4 linked regions of the Homo sapiens genome follow. The protein of the gene in region 3 interacts with the protein of the main gene of each other region in a pairwise test. Each region holds a gene or a part of one and is shown on either strand. Other genes may lie near its edges.

The links. The genes of interacting proteins can lie anywhere in the genome.
Region 1: the proteins of H4C5 (region 3) and RRP1B interact in binary tests that used the Homo sapiens proteins (3 or more experiments, as listed by UniProt).
Region 2: the proteins of H4C5 (region 3) and NAA40 interact in binary tests that used the Homo sapiens proteins (3 or more experiments, as listed by UniProt).
Region 4: the proteins of H4C5 (region 3) and KDM4A interact in binary tests that used the Homo sapiens proteins (3 or more experiments, as listed by UniProt).

The regions. Positions count from the first base shown.
Region 1 is NC_000021.9:43,666,060-43,669,559, reverse strand, and holds part of RRP1B (ribosomal RNA processing protein 1 homolog B), read right to left. Parts: intron 1-3,500. UniProt on the Homo sapiens protein: Positively regulates DNA damage-induced apoptosis by acting as a transcriptional coactivator of proapoptotic target genes of the transcriptional activator E2F1.
Region 2 is NC_000011.10:63,945,502-63,949,001, reverse strand, and holds part of NAA40 (N-alpha-acetyltransferase 40), read right to left. Parts: intron 3,163-3,500; coding exon 3,067-3,162; intron 2,567-3,066; exon of another isoform or gene 2,303-2,566; coding exon of another isoform or gene 2,201-2,302; intron 2,052-2,200; coding exon 1,999-2,051; intron 1-1,998. UniProt on the Homo sapiens protein: N-alpha-acetyltransferase that specifically mediates the acetylation of the N-terminal residues of histones H4 and H2A.
Region 3 is NC_000006.12:26,203,197-26,207,266, reverse strand, and holds H4C5 (histone H4), read right to left. Parts: upstream 2,658-4,070; 5' UTR 2,623-2,657; coding exon 2,311-2,622; 3' UTR 2,246-2,310; downstream 1-2,245. UniProt on the Homo sapiens protein: Core component of nucleosome. Nucleosomes wrap and compact DNA into chromatin, limiting DNA accessibility to the cellular machineries which require DNA as a template.
Region 4 is NC_000001.11:43,656,649-43,660,148, reverse strand, and holds part of KDM4A (lysine-specific demethylase 4A), read right to left. Parts: intron 1-3,500. UniProt on the Homo sapiens protein: Histone demethylase that specifically demethylates 'Lys-9' and 'Lys-36' residues of histone H3, thereby playing a central role in histone code. Does not demethylate histone H3 'Lys-4', H3 'Lys-27' nor H4 'Lys-20'.

The sequences.
Region 1 (3,500 bases), on a different chromosome or scaffold from region 3:
GCAGCCATCCTGCACACTGACATTTTCGCTGGTCTTGTGAAGTAAAACTGCAAATCTTACAAGAGATGCGGGGGACCTGCTCAAGTCATATGAAGCCCCAGCAACGGGCAGCCCCACTTCCGAGGAACAGAAAACCAGCCAGGCTGAGGACACAGGAGCTCCAAACAGTACATCTGAAAGTCAAAGGCCTAGGAAAGGGCCTGGGGACACTGACGCTGCTTTGGAATATTTTTGCAAAAATTACCTTTTAAGGATCCTAGTATAAGGTCAAAAGTGGCTGCCTCCCAGTCACCCTCCCTGTAACGGTGATCATTTACTGTGGCATCACCAGGTTGGCTTTGTCAATCACCCTCCCTGCAACGGTGATCATTTACTGTGGCATCACCAGGTTGGCTTTGTCAATCACCCTCCCTGCAACGGTGATCATTTACTGTGGCATCACCAGGTTGGCTTTGTCAATCACCCTCCCTGTAACGGTGATCATTTACTGCAGCATCACCAGGGTTGGCTTTGTTCTGACTCTAGCTACTCAGGGCTCTACCTCTGCCTTCATGATCTATGATTGAGTGACCAGTCTCGTTCAGCCTTAAATCTCCTGAGTAGACCCCAGGTGTCATAAAGTATTTGCTGACTGACATAAAGAATCACAAAATGATAAGGTAGGTGTACAGTCTTGGAGTTTCCGAGCCTATGGATACATGAAATTAGAACACAAACAGAATCCTCAAGTCTTGATGTGTGTTACAAATGGTCTTTATTAGGATTTTACTAGGAGATCCTAGGAGAAATCTTTTGGAGCAACAAAGTGCTATAAACTAGATGAATGCAAACAAATATTTAGAATCAATGTGATCTTAATACTCCAAAAGATGCTTAAAAAGTGACAAAAAGGGCCAGACGCGGTGGCTCATGCCTGTAATCTCAGCACTTTGGGAGGCTGAGGTGGGCGGATCACGGGGTCAGACGATCAAGACCATCCTCACTAACACAGTGAAACCCCGTCTCTACTAAAAATACAAAAAAAATTAGCCGGGTATGGTGGCGGGCGCCTATAGTCCCAGCTACTCCAGAGGCTGAGGCAGTAGAATGGTGTGAACCCAGGAGGTGGAGTTTGCACTTTGCAGTGAGCTGAGATTGCGCCACTGCACTCCAGCCTGGGCGACAGAGCGAGAGTCCGTCTCTTAAAAAAAAAAAAAAAAGTGACAAAAAGACCTTTTAATGGACCAAAGTTTGTTTAGTGTATTCAGAGTGCGTTAACCTTAATTTACAGGTATTGATTTCCACTTTGCTAAGGGTCTTTCTCCCATCAACAATTTTATAATGGTACATTTTGATTCTTTTTTTTTTTTTTGAGATAGAGTCTTGCTCTGTTGCCCAGGCTGGAGTGCAGTGGCACAATCTAGGCTCACTGCAACCTCTGCCTCCTGGGTTCAAGCGATTCTCCTGCCTCAGCCTCAAGAGTAGCTGGGATTATAGGCGCGTGCCACCACGCCTGGCTAATTTTTTGTATTTTTAGTGGAGACAAGGTTTCACCATGTTGGCCAGGCTGGTCCGGAACTCCTGACCTCAGGTGATCTGCTGGCCTCGGCCTCCCAAAGTGCTGGGAATACTGGCATGAGCCACCACACCCGGCCTGCATTTTGATTCTTTTATGATAGTTTTCCATGTAAAACCAGGATATCAGGAACTAACATAAAACTAGTTTATTAAAGTATATTCCCTTTCACAGTTGGAGAGAAGATGTACCAACTGGTTCTCTTGCCCTCTTGTTATGAACAAGTCATGCCTGGGGATCCTCACGTGGATAATGTAAGTATGGTATGAGTAATAAACCCCACTAGAGCTGAGCCAACTGCGGTCATGATTGCAGTAACTTTTTTTTTCTTGGCCACAGTGACCTGCACTTATATTTAATCATGTTCAAAGACCACATATATCCCCAGTGAATTGAAGGCTTTGGGCAAGGATCATAAATAGCTGCTAAAACATTAGATGAAAAGATATCACCCAGGCGTGGCGGCTCACTTGAGCTCAGGAGTTTGAGACCAGCCTGGGCAACACAGCAAAACCCAATCTCTACAACATTGTACTCCATGGAGCTTGGGCGACAGAGCAAGACCCTGTCTTAAACACACACACACACACACCAACAACAAAACCAAAAAATTGGCAGAGCATGGTGGCATGTGCCTGTAGTCCCAAGTACTCAGGTGGCTGAAGTGGGAGGATGACCTGAGCCCAGGAATTTGAGGCTGCAGTAAGCTATAATCGTGCCACTGCACTCCAACCTGGGCAACAGAGCAACTCTGTCTCTCAAACAAACAAACAAACAAACAAACAAACGATATTAAGAAACTTGAAAGTGGATGTGTCAGACCATCAACACCCAAACCCACCGACCGATCATTAACATGCACAGGCAATAATCACGCATCAGATGCCAGAGGTGATGCCAACAGGAAGAACGCTGCACCAACCTATGAAGTATTCTTACAAAAGTAAGTGTCAAAAAAAAAAACACCCAACTGTGTCAAATCTTAACTATTAATATTAGTTTATAGGAAATACAGGGGACAGAGGAACATGGTAAGTGAGACAACAGGATGCAGTCAACAAACCCCAAATATGTGAAACTCTACAAGGCATATGACCTATGTCCCCAACAAATAAACTGTACAGAAAAAGATGGGTAAGAACTGTTAGATTTTAAGAGCGTCTTGGCAGACATATTAACCAAATGCAGTGGGTGGTCCTCATTTGGATTGCTCATAAAAAACATTTGATGAGAAAAACTAAACAGATTGGATATTTCATGCTATTAAGGATTTTTTTTTTTTTTTTTTGGAGACAGTTTCACTCTGTCGCCCAGGCTGGAGTGCAGTGGTGCAATCTCGGCTCACTGCAACCTCTGCTGCCCAGGTTCAAGCGATTCTCCTGCCTCAGCCTCCCACGTAGCTGGGATTACACGCACCTGCCACCGCACCCAGCTAAGTTTTGTAGTTTTTAATAGAGACGGGGTTTCGCCATGTTGGCCAGGATGGTCTCAGTCTCTTGACCACATGATCCCCCCACCTTGGCCTCCCATAGTGCTGGGATTACAGGCGTGAGCCACCAGGCCTGGCAGCCATGCTAGTTTTAAGGGGGAAAGTGAAGCACAACTTTGTGCAGGAGCTCAACTGCTGGTGCCAGCACCTTGTTTTTCTCCACTGCAACCTCTGCTGCCCCAAAGATTGTCTCCATTCTCAGACAGGCTCCACCTGTGTTACAAGGTGGCTGGGAGCAGGTACAAACTGTGTGTTCTCTTCAAGTCCAGTAAGGAGAGAGCTAGAAACTCCTAAGGACTGAGCAAGAAGATTTTTACCTGCAGAGGGTCACTTGGCTTTTCTTGAACCTGTCCTGTGGCCAAGGGAATTCTGCTGAATTGGCAGAAGCCGCCGCCTCTCCACGTGGGGTAAGCCCCACCCAGACCACAGAGTCCCTCCACACCCTGCTTGAAGGTG
Region 2 (3,500 bases), on a different chromosome or scaffold from region 3:
CCTATGTCGCCAGGACTGGTCTTGGACTCCTGGGCACAAACGATCCTTCCAACCTCAGCCTCCCAAAGTGCTGGGATTACAGGTATGAGCCACCACACCTGGCCCAGGCCCATTTTTAAATAGAAAATTGAGGAACAGAAAGGTTAAGTAATTTGTTCAGGGTCAGCTGGGCACAGCACTTTAGGAGGCCGAGGTGGGAGGATCACTTGAGGACAGCAGTTTGAGACCAGCCCGGGCAACATAGGCAAGACCCCTTCTCTACCAAAAAATATATACATTTTTTTGAGATGGAGTCTTGCTCTGTTGCCCAGGCTGGAGTGCAATGGCGCAATCTTGGCTCACTGCAAGCTCCGCCTCCCGGGTTCACGCCATTCTCCTGCCTCAGCCTCCCGAGTAGCTGAGACTACAGGTGCCCGCCACCATGCCTGGCTAATTTTTTATATTTTTAGTAGAGACGGGGTTTTACCGTGTTAGCCAGGATGGTCTCGATCTCCTGACCTCGTGATCCGCCCACCTCGGCCTCCCAAAGTGCTGAGATTACAGGCGTGAGCCACCACGCCCAGCAAATATTTTTCTTTTTAAAGAAGAAAAGTAATTTGTTCAGGGCCAAATAGCCAGGAATTGGCTTTTAACAATTATACTGTATACTCAGGGAAAGAGCACTAGATTGGAAATTAAAAGCCCCTCAGCTGTCAGGGGAAACTCCATAAACTCAGAAAGCTCATTTGACTCTCTGGGCCTCAGTTTCCCATGCATTAAATGTGAGTGTCAGCCTAGATAATTTTCCAAGTTTGTTTCAGCTCAATGATTCTTTGCAGAGAGAATAATCAGTCCTGAAGAGACATCAGGCCAGGCGCGGTGGCTCACACCTGTAATCCCAGCACTTTGGGTGGCTGAGGCAGGTGGGTCAGTTGAGGTCAGGAGTTCGAGACCAGCCTGGCCAACATGGTGAAACCCCATCTCTACTAAAAATACAAAAATTAGCTGGGCGCAGTGGCTCACACCTGTAATCCCAACACTTTGGGAGGCTGAGACAGGTGGATCATGAGGTCAGGAGTTCAAGACCAGCCTGGCCAAGATGGTGAAACCCTGACTCTACTAAAAATACAAAAATTAGCTGGACGTGGTGGCGGGTGCCTTTAATCCTAGCTATTTGAGAGGCTGAGACAGAGAATTACTTGAACCTGGCAGAGGTTGCAGTGAGCCGAGATCGCACCACTGCACTCCAGCCTGAACGACAGAGTGAGACTCCGTCTCAAAAAAAAAAAAAAAAACCCACAAAAATTAGTGAGGTGTGGTGGCACGCACCTATAATCCCAGGTACTTGGGAGGCTGAGGCAGGAGAATCGGCTGAACCCAGAAGGCGGAGGTTGCAGTGAGCCGAGATTGCGTCACTGCACTCCAGCCTGGGTGACTAAGCAAGACTCCATCTCAAAAAATAAAAGAAAAATTTATCTAAAGAGACATCAGTCTGAGATTAAGTGCAATCTTTGCTCATTTATGGATTCTTCTGCCACCCTACCTGGGGGATTTTATATCAATATAGGGCACGAGTCAGTTTCTGCTTTTGTTTTGTTTTGTTTTGTTTTGTTTTGAGATGGAGTTTCACTCTTGTTACCCAAGCTGGAGTGCAATGGTGCTATCTCGGCTCACTGCAACCTCTGCCCCCCGGGTTCAAGTGATTCTCCTGCCTCAGCCTCCCGAGTAGCTGGGATTACAGGCGATCGCCACCGTGCCAGCTAATTTTTTGTATTTTTAGTAGAAATGGGGTTTCACTATGTTAGCCAGGCTGGTCTCGAACTCCTGACCTCATGTGATCCACCCACCTCGGTCTCCCAAAGTGCTTGGATTACAGGCGTGAGCCACCGCACCCAGCCCTGTTTTTTCGTAAATACGAAGAACAATGAGAAAATTTGTGTCTGAGGAAGCCTACTCTGGAAAGGGAATTCCTGAAGACACTCGAGGAGACAGCAGTTGGTAATGCTCAATGTGACTCACCCGTTTCTATCATATTTCTTGAACACTGGGAAAGCCTCCAGAGGGTCTCCAAGCTGTGGAGGGAAAGAAAAGAGGAACAGCACAGACAAGTGGGGCGGAGGTGCAGATCCTATCCCAAGAGCTGTTGTCTTGGAGTGGGATGCTGTGGGGACCCACAACGGGAGACTAACTTCAGAACCAGGAGCAGCCTCCCAAAACCCACCATTTGCCTAGCTCTGAAGTCACATGTGCGAGGAAGGCTTTGGTGGAAAGGCCCAGGAGAGTTAAGTTTGGCATCACCTGACAGGGCAAGAGGAGACCTCATTAGCCTGTGGGCATACAACCTGCTCACAGCACAGCTAACCCAAAGAAGAGGCTACCTGATCTGCTGCACACTGACTTTACCTGGTTACAACTCCAAATGGAAAATCAAGCCCCTGAGCCACATCCTTATAAATGAGTGTTTACTATGAGTGGGTTAAAAGAATGACCAAAAAATGGGATACTAAATGGAGGCAGGGGCTGGGCACTGTGGCTCACGCCTGTAATCCCAGCACTTTGGGAGGCCAAGGCAGGTGAAATGCTTGGGCTCAGGAGTTCAAGACCATCCTGGGCAACAAGGCCAAACCCCGTCTCTACAAAAATTACCCGGGTGTGGTGGTGGGCACCTATAGTCCCAGCTAATTGAGAGGCTGAGGTGGGAGGATCACTTGGGCCCAGGCGGCAGAGGCTGCAAGGTTGAAGTGAGCCGAGATAGTGCCACTGCATTCCAGCCTGGATGACAGAGTGAGACCCTGTCTCACACAAAAGAAAAAAAAATTATCTAGATCCTCCTCTATTCATAAGGAAGAAGATCCACAGGGAGGCAGCCACTTCACTGGAATCCACGTTTTCCCAAACACCTGGGCCAACTGCTGGCGCCAACTTCCAACACACAGGTATGAGCTCAGTTCCCTGCACAGCAAGGAGGCAGAGGCGGTGTGGGTGGGTAGTGTCACAATTCTGCCACAGGGTGGAGACAAAATAAGTCAAATTATAAACCAAGCTGAAGTCCCAGGAGGCAGGGACTGGGAAGAAAGGGAGAATCACCCTGTTGGCAGCGTCCACTTTGGCACAAACGGCATCCATGGCTGCTCGCTCCTCCAACCGCTTCTGCTTCTTCTCCTTGGCTTTGCTTGACTTTCTCTGCAACAGGGAAAAGCAACGTTAGCTGGAATGGCTGTGGCCAATCAAGCACTGACTTTCCCTTTAAGGAATCGAAGGGCCCTGCATCCACAGGCCTGGCCCAGCAGTGAGAAATTTCCCACCTCTGCTGCCACACATTTGGAGGGGCGGAAAGACCCAAGCAGGTCATTTTGTAGTGGGGAGTCCTCAGAGGTCACCAGACTTCTCAGCTTCCCTTCAGAAAGAGCACTGGCCGTCCTGACACAGACACTGTGGGGACCCAGCGAAACAGCTGACAACGCCTACAGCAGGCCAGCCCCCAGCAGGCACTTAGTAAATATTCACTCACCCGCTCCCTC
Region 3 (4,070 bases):
TTTTTTCTTTATCACTTTATGAGTAAAATTTTTCAAGACCATATCATTTAAAATATCACTTCTTCCCTCCACATGCTATGCCTTTTCCTGCTTCAGTGATCTTCATAGCAGTCAGCACCATCTGACACACTGTTTCACTTATTTTGTGTGTGTACCCCCACCCAATAAATATAAATTCTATGCACACATATCGTTTTGTTCTTTCTCATTCACTGCTGTAATTCCCAGAGCATAGAACAATGCTTGGTACATGCTATGTGCTCCTTTTTGTTGCTGTTGTTACATTAACATCCTCATAAAACTTTTTCTCCTCGAACTAGTGCCTTAGCACCAATAACATGATGCTTTTCATATATATGCACGAGCTCACACTTTTTAAAAATGACATTCAAAGTAACTATTTATTTTCCTGATTTCAAAGTATCAGCCTACGGACAACTTGCTGGCTAGAAGAAAAATCTGATTTTCAATGGAACTATCACCCTAAACCAACGGTTTTTTTTTTTTTTAATTTTTTTGGCAGTCTTTCTCTGTTGCCCAGGCTGGAGTGCAGTGGTACCACCTTGGCTCACTACAACCTCTTCCTCCTGGGTTCAAGCGATTCTCCTGCTTCAGCCTCCTGATTAATTGGGATTACAGGTGCCTGCCACCATGCCCAGTTAATTTTTTTATTTTTAATAGAGTCAGGTGTTCACCATGTTGGCCAGACTAGTCTTGAACTCCTGACCTCAGGTGATCGACCCACCTTGCCCTCCCAACGTGCTCGGAATAGAGGCATGAGCCACTGTGCCCAGCCCAAACTTGCGATTTTTCTATCACTTGGAATTTACATAAACCGGACATCATGTGTTTCTGATGTAGTGTACTATGTACATTACATCTGTAAACTGTTCCTGACAGGCATATTCACCCGATTTCAATTAAGTGTATGAAAGTCACTTGTACTTTACAGGACATGGGGAGTACAGAAGCCAAGTAAAACGATTAAGAATCAAGCCAATACAAAACAAAAGCAAAACAAAAACATTCTGTAAGTCTGGTCTCCGAGAAATCAATGTTCAAAAATGGGGAAGTAGGGGAGAGGAGCCTGTTTTAGATAAGAAAACTGGAGACACAACGGAAGTTATGGCTGGATCCTTCTTTAAACAAACCACATCTCCAAGACATCTGGGGCATAACTGTGGAATGACGACATATCTTTTTTGAACAATAGACAATGAGATCCAAGCAGGAAGTAACAAAGACTTTATTTTCAGAGGGAGAAGTAATCCCAGGATGGAATGAGCGCTCTGTGGCAGTGAAGGGGAGCTGGAATATATATATGCCTTACAGAGTCAACCTTACATACAGATTCAGTAGGTTTGGAAAAATTCTATGAGTATTCATGAGGGAGGAGATGAAATCACAAATCCGTCTCCCCGACCAAAATTGGGGGGCTTATGTAGCGAGAAGGGCGAGAAAACAGGAAATCAGGGAGGGATAAGGACGCAATCATGATGGATGAAACATAGGGAGTCTCACGGTCTCGATGCAAGTGATCTGGTGTTTCAGTTCCTGCCTCAGGCAGGAACATGAGTTCCTAAACATGAGTTCCTAAACATTTGTCTCATGTGAGATAAATGCTAAATTTCAAGCTTTAGGGTTTAAAGAGAGTCAAATTCTTTTATTCAAAAAACAGCAAATATCATAACTTCTAAGGGACAACTGGGTTGGCTTAATAGAATTCCGAAATGAATGCTTGCAACCTCTCCTTGCGTGAGCTTATCTACCCCAGGAACTTCTACACACCTAAACTCGGTCGTTAGGTTAAGTAATAGAAAACAGGCCGCTAGAATTTAAGGCCCACACTCCTTTCCAGGAAGATGATTGGTTGCGCTAATTCGCGGGTCCGGCCCATTGCCAGGCACCGGCTTTGTTCTTCGCTCTCCGCCATTTTGAGCGGTTACGCAGTGTCTTGCGGTTTTCCCACTTATGTCGAAAACCATGCATTTTTAGGTACTCAAAATAAAAGTGGTAAGGTAAACAGACACTATTACCCTAGCCTTTTCAGTGCAATCTAAGGCCCTACTACAATAAACATAAAAGGATCGTAGCCTAAAAAATCGTATGCCGAAACCCCAAATGTAATTTGGAACGAAAAAAAAAAAACGGCTGAAAAATATACGTACCTGTTGACAGGAACAATTAACTTATAAAGAGACCAACCAATCGTCTAACAAGTCATGAGCTCTTTTGCGGAAAACTGTGGGCGGCCCTGAAAAGGGCCTTTGATTTGGGAAGTCGAGATGCTGAGTCGTTTAAGCGGTAGCATTAGCCGCCGAAGCCGTAAAGAGTGCGTCCCTGTCTCTTCAGCGCGTAGACCACATCCATCGCTGTCACTGTCTTGCGTTTGGCGTGCTCCGTGTAAGTCACAGCATCACGAATCACGTTTTCCAGAAACACCTTCAGAACCCCGCGAGTCTCCTCGTAGATGAGACCAGAAATGCGCTTGACACCCCCGCGACGAGCAAGGCGCCGGATGGCAGGCTTGGTAATGCCCTGGATGTTATCTCGCAGGACCTTACGGTGACGCTTAGCGCCTCCTTTACCCAGTCCCTTTCCGCCTTTGCCGCGACCAGACATGACCAACACACCAACGAAAATAGCCGCAAAAATCTGAAAAACAAGCGACGGTAGTATTCTTATATGCCGGGAATTCGGACCTAAATGAAGACTGAAAACGCGCATACGGGAACTTTGGTGCTGCCTGCTGGCCCTACCCTTCACAGATCAGACTGGGATGACGTCACCAACGACTCCAGTTCCCGCCGGCAGAGTCCGCTCTCCATGGAGTCATCTCTGCAAGTCTTGCGTTCCCAAAGAGGAAATTTAGGCATATTTTAACAACTAAATGAGATTAAATACATTAACATGTTTAAAATCATTTGCTGCTTGGGATGCTCTAGGACGATTGAACAGGAGCTTTGGCTCACAAGACCGGAACTGCAGTAATCTCCTTCCATGAGGAGTTCAGCTTTGTCCCCATAGGCACGGTTCCTCTGGCATTTCTGCTGCTTGCTCTCTTGGGGACGGAACCCCCTTAGGAAGTGTTTGAAAACTGCAAGATCTCACCCTCTCCACCACCAAGCCAAGGGAAATCTGACCAAAAGGATTTTCCTCCCGAAGAGAAAAACACGGATAATTAGTGATCCCGCCGGGCGTTGTGGCTCACGCCTGTAATCCCAGCACTTTGGGAGGCTGAGGCGGGCGGATCACCTGAGGTCGGGAGTTCAATACCAGTCTCCAACACGGAAAAACCGCATCTCTACTAAGAATACAAAATTAGCCGGGCCTGGTGGCGCATACCTGTAATCCCAACTACTTAGGAGGCTGAGGTAGGAGAATCATTTGAACCCAGGAGGCAGAGGTTGCGGTGAGCCCGGATCACACCATTGCACTCCAGCCTGTGCAACAAGAGCGGAACTCCGTCTCAAAGAAAAGAAAAAAAAATTTTTGATCCCATGAATTCTGGTCCTCGCTGTGGACGCCCGTATTACATTTTTGGCTTATTTTTCTTTCTTCCCTGTTTATTAAAATTTATAATTATCATTTAAATATCTAGCCAACTCGCACATCTAAACCTAGAAACTCACTGGTGTGTTAATGTTTACTTCTCTATTGTTAGTTTTCTGTTCTCTTTGATGCTGGTAGCAGCCTTTATCACAAGAGAATTGGCAACGTGTAATGGGCCAAGTTATTAAATAGGCGACTTCCTACAGGCTTTTAAAATAAAAGGTGTTGGGACTCAGAAAACAATGCTACAAAATGAAGGCCTCCGTAGTAACTTTTTCTCCTTCTCCTACCTTCCTCTTTCTCCCTCCCATTCTTCCCCGAAGCTAGCTATAGGAACTAGACTGCTTCCTTCCCAAGATGGAACATATAAACCAAAGCTAGACTCAAAGCTAGCCATAAAACCTAAAAAATATGAATCCAACTTTCCTTCTGCCTTTTTGTGTAAAAACTGGCAGTAAAGAAATTGCCTGGCCTACCTCGTTTGATTGTAGGTCATAAGACCCCGATTCAAGAGAGGG
Region 4 (3,500 bases), on a different chromosome or scaffold from region 3:
TCAGTCCCTCAACGTCCCTTCCATGAGCACTGGGCCTGAGGAAGCCTGAGGAAGGTAATGTACACACAGATGTAAACCGGTCTTCCTTAACAAGCACAACATCCTCAACTCTCTGAAGAGACTCTACTTAAACTACACCTTGCTAGATTCAGGTGGCCACCCAGGGAGAAAATGGGCTTACAGACCAAGACCCAAGGTCCCTACATATCCACAGACAACCAAAACCCAGCAGCATGTGAAGAGCTAAGGCTTTCCAACAGCATTCACCTCCCTGAACCAGCCAAAAGGAAGCTGCTCCAAGAGGGCTCATTTGTAAGTACCCCTGCTATATGCCCAAGCGCCCTACGCAGTGGCTGACACTCACCAAGTAATCACTCCTAAAAACAACAAATATTTTAGTAAAAATATAAAATAGCTCTAAAAATATAGATTTTTGCACATCCAATATTCCAATTAGGAAAATACGTACTCACATATACGCATATTTATATCTACCTATCTACATAAAGCCATAAAAATATCTACACTTTGGCCAGGGGTGTGGCTCACACCTGTTATCCCAGCACTTTGGGAGGCCTGGCGGGGGCGGATCACCTGAGGTCAGGAGTTCAAGACCAGCCTGGCCAACATGGTGAAACCTGGTCTCTACTAAAAATACAAAAATTAGAGGGGCGTGGTGGCACACGCCTGTAATCCCAGCTATTTAGGGTGGGGGCTGAGGCAGGAGAATTACTTAAACCCAGGAGGAGGAGTCTGCAGTGAGCTGAGCTAACTAACGCCACTGCACTCCAGCCTCGGCCATAGAGTAAAACTCTGTCTCAAAAAAAGAAAAGAAAACTATACCTTAAAAAAAACTATACAAGATCCTTGCTCTGCTGCCCAGCCTGGAGCACAGTGGTGTGATCATAGCTTACTGTAGCCTCGAACTCCTGGGCTCAAGCAATCCTCCTGCCCTAACCTCCCGAGTAGCCAGGACTGCAAGTGTACACCACCACATCTGGTGTTTTTATTTTTTGTAGAAATGAAGTCCTGCAATGTTGCCCAGGTTGGTCTCAAATTCCTGGCCTCCAGTGATCCTCCAACCTCGGCCTCCCAAAGTGATGGGATTATAGAAGTTAGCCAATGCACCCAGTCTAAAAATATCTATACTCTTTAGCTTAATACTGAAAATTTAATTAAAAAAAAAAAAACTTCTTTTAGATTCAAACTAGCCAAGTACAGTGGCTCATGCCTGTAATCCCAACACTTTGGGAGGCTGAGGCAGGAGGATCACTTGAGCCCAAGAGTTTGAGACCAGCAACATGGCAAAATCCTATTTCTACAAAAACTTTAAAAATTAGCAGAGCTGGCCAGCAGCAATGGCTCACGCCTGTAATCCCAGCACTTGGGAGGCCCAGGCAGGCGGATCACAAGGTCAGGAGATCAAGACCATCCTGTCTAACATGGTGAAACCCTGTATCTACAACAAATACAAAAAATTAGCCGGGTGGTGTGGCGGGCGCCTATAGTCCCAGCTACTTGGGAAGCTGAGGCAGGAGAATTGCTTGAACCCAGGAGGCGGAGATTGCAGTGAGCCTAAATAGCACCACTGCACTCTAGCCCGCGCCACAGAGTAAGACTCCATCTCAAAAAAAAAAAAAAAAAAATCTGACTAAGTAACTGCCTTACACTTTAATGTCAACCTAGGGAATAATAAATTTTAGAGACCTAACATTCTCTCTGAAATACAATTAACTCCCCTATTGTCAACTAATCTGTTTCATGAATTTAGGTTTTTAGGTTGGGCACGGTGGCTCATGCCTGTAATCCCAGCATTTGGGAGGCCAAGGCAGGCTGATCACTTGAGGCCAACAGTTCGAGACCAGCCTGACCAACATGGTGAAACCCCGTCTCTACTAAAAATACAAAAAAATTAGCCAGGCGTGGTGGTGGGCACCTGTAATCCCAGCTACATGGGAGGCTGAGGTAGGAGAATCGCTTAAACCTGGGAGGCAGAGATTGCAGTGAGTGAGATTGTGCCACTGCACTCCAGCCTGGGCAACACAGCGAGACTCTGTCTCAAAAAAAAAAAAAAAAAGTTATGTTTTTACTTTAAAGGTAATCTGCTATGTATTAGGACGAAAGGAATAGACATAGGGCTGGTTAATTTAAAAGGAAAACAAGTGTGCTAAAAGAAGAAAAAGCGAGACCAGCCTGGCCAATATGGTGAAACCCCATCTCTACTAAAAATACAAAAAAATTGGCCGGGCGTGGTGGCGGGCTCCCAGCTACTCGGGAGGCCGAGGAAGGAAAATCACTTGAACCTGGGAGGCGGAGGCTGCAATGAGCCAAGATTGTGCCACTGCACTCCAGCCTGGGTGACAGAGCGACACTCCATCTCAAAAAAAAAAAAAAAAAAGAAAAGAAAAAGCCTTAACAAAAAGGGAAAAAAGGCTGAGGAGACTGAAGCCCCTGGCTGAATTCCATGTGAGAAACAGAAGGCAGGTGAGTTTGCTCCTCATGTGTAGCAAAAATCAGACAATAAGGATGGCAGGAAGGATACAGCCTTTCACCTGCAGAGCCCCACATTTCTTCAACATGCCTTTATGTAAATTCTCTCATCGGTCAGCAGGTTGGCCAGCAAGGTAGATGTTTTAAGAGTTAAGGTTGGCCGGGCACGGTGGCTCACACCTGTAATCCCAGCCCTTTGGGAGGCCAAGGCGGGTGGATCACGAGGTCAAGAGATCGAGACCATCCTGGCCAACATGGTGAAACCCTGCCTCTGCTAAAAATACAAAAATTAGCTAGGTGTGGTGGTGGGCGCCTGTAATCCCAGCTGCTCAGGAGACTGAGGCAGGAGAATTGCTTGAACCCAGGAGGCGGAGGCTGCAGTGAGCCGAGATCACGCCACTGCACTCTAGCCTGGCGACAGAGCGAGATTCTGTCTCAAAAAAAAAAATAAATAAAAGGAGTTAAGGTGTCAGCCGGATGCAGTGGCTCATGCCTATAATCCCAGCACTTTGGGAGGCTGAGGCAGGAGGATCGCTTGAGCCCAGGAGTTCAAGACCAAACTGGGCAGCAAATAATAAAAAATATTAGCTGAGCGCGGTAGCACATGCCTATCTATACCTCCAGTTACTTGGGAGGCTGAGCAAGGAGGATCATTTTGAGCCTGGGCAGTCGAGGCTGCAGTAAGCCATGATTGCACCACTACACTCCAACTTGGGTGACAGTAGAGACGGTGAAACCCCGTCTCTACTAAAAATACAAAAATTAGCCAGGCGTGGTGGCAGGCGCCTGTATGTAATCCCAGCTACTCGGGAGGCTGAGACAGGAGAATTGCTTGAACCCGGGAGGTGGAGGTTGCAGTGAGCCGAGACTGCACCATTGCACTCCAGCCTGGGGAACGAGCGAGACTCCACCTCAAAAAAAAAAAAAGATGGAGTAGTCAGAGCTGAACAAGGAAACACAAAATTTATTCTCTGTGAATCTCAGGAAAAATGAGAACTAAACATTAAAAA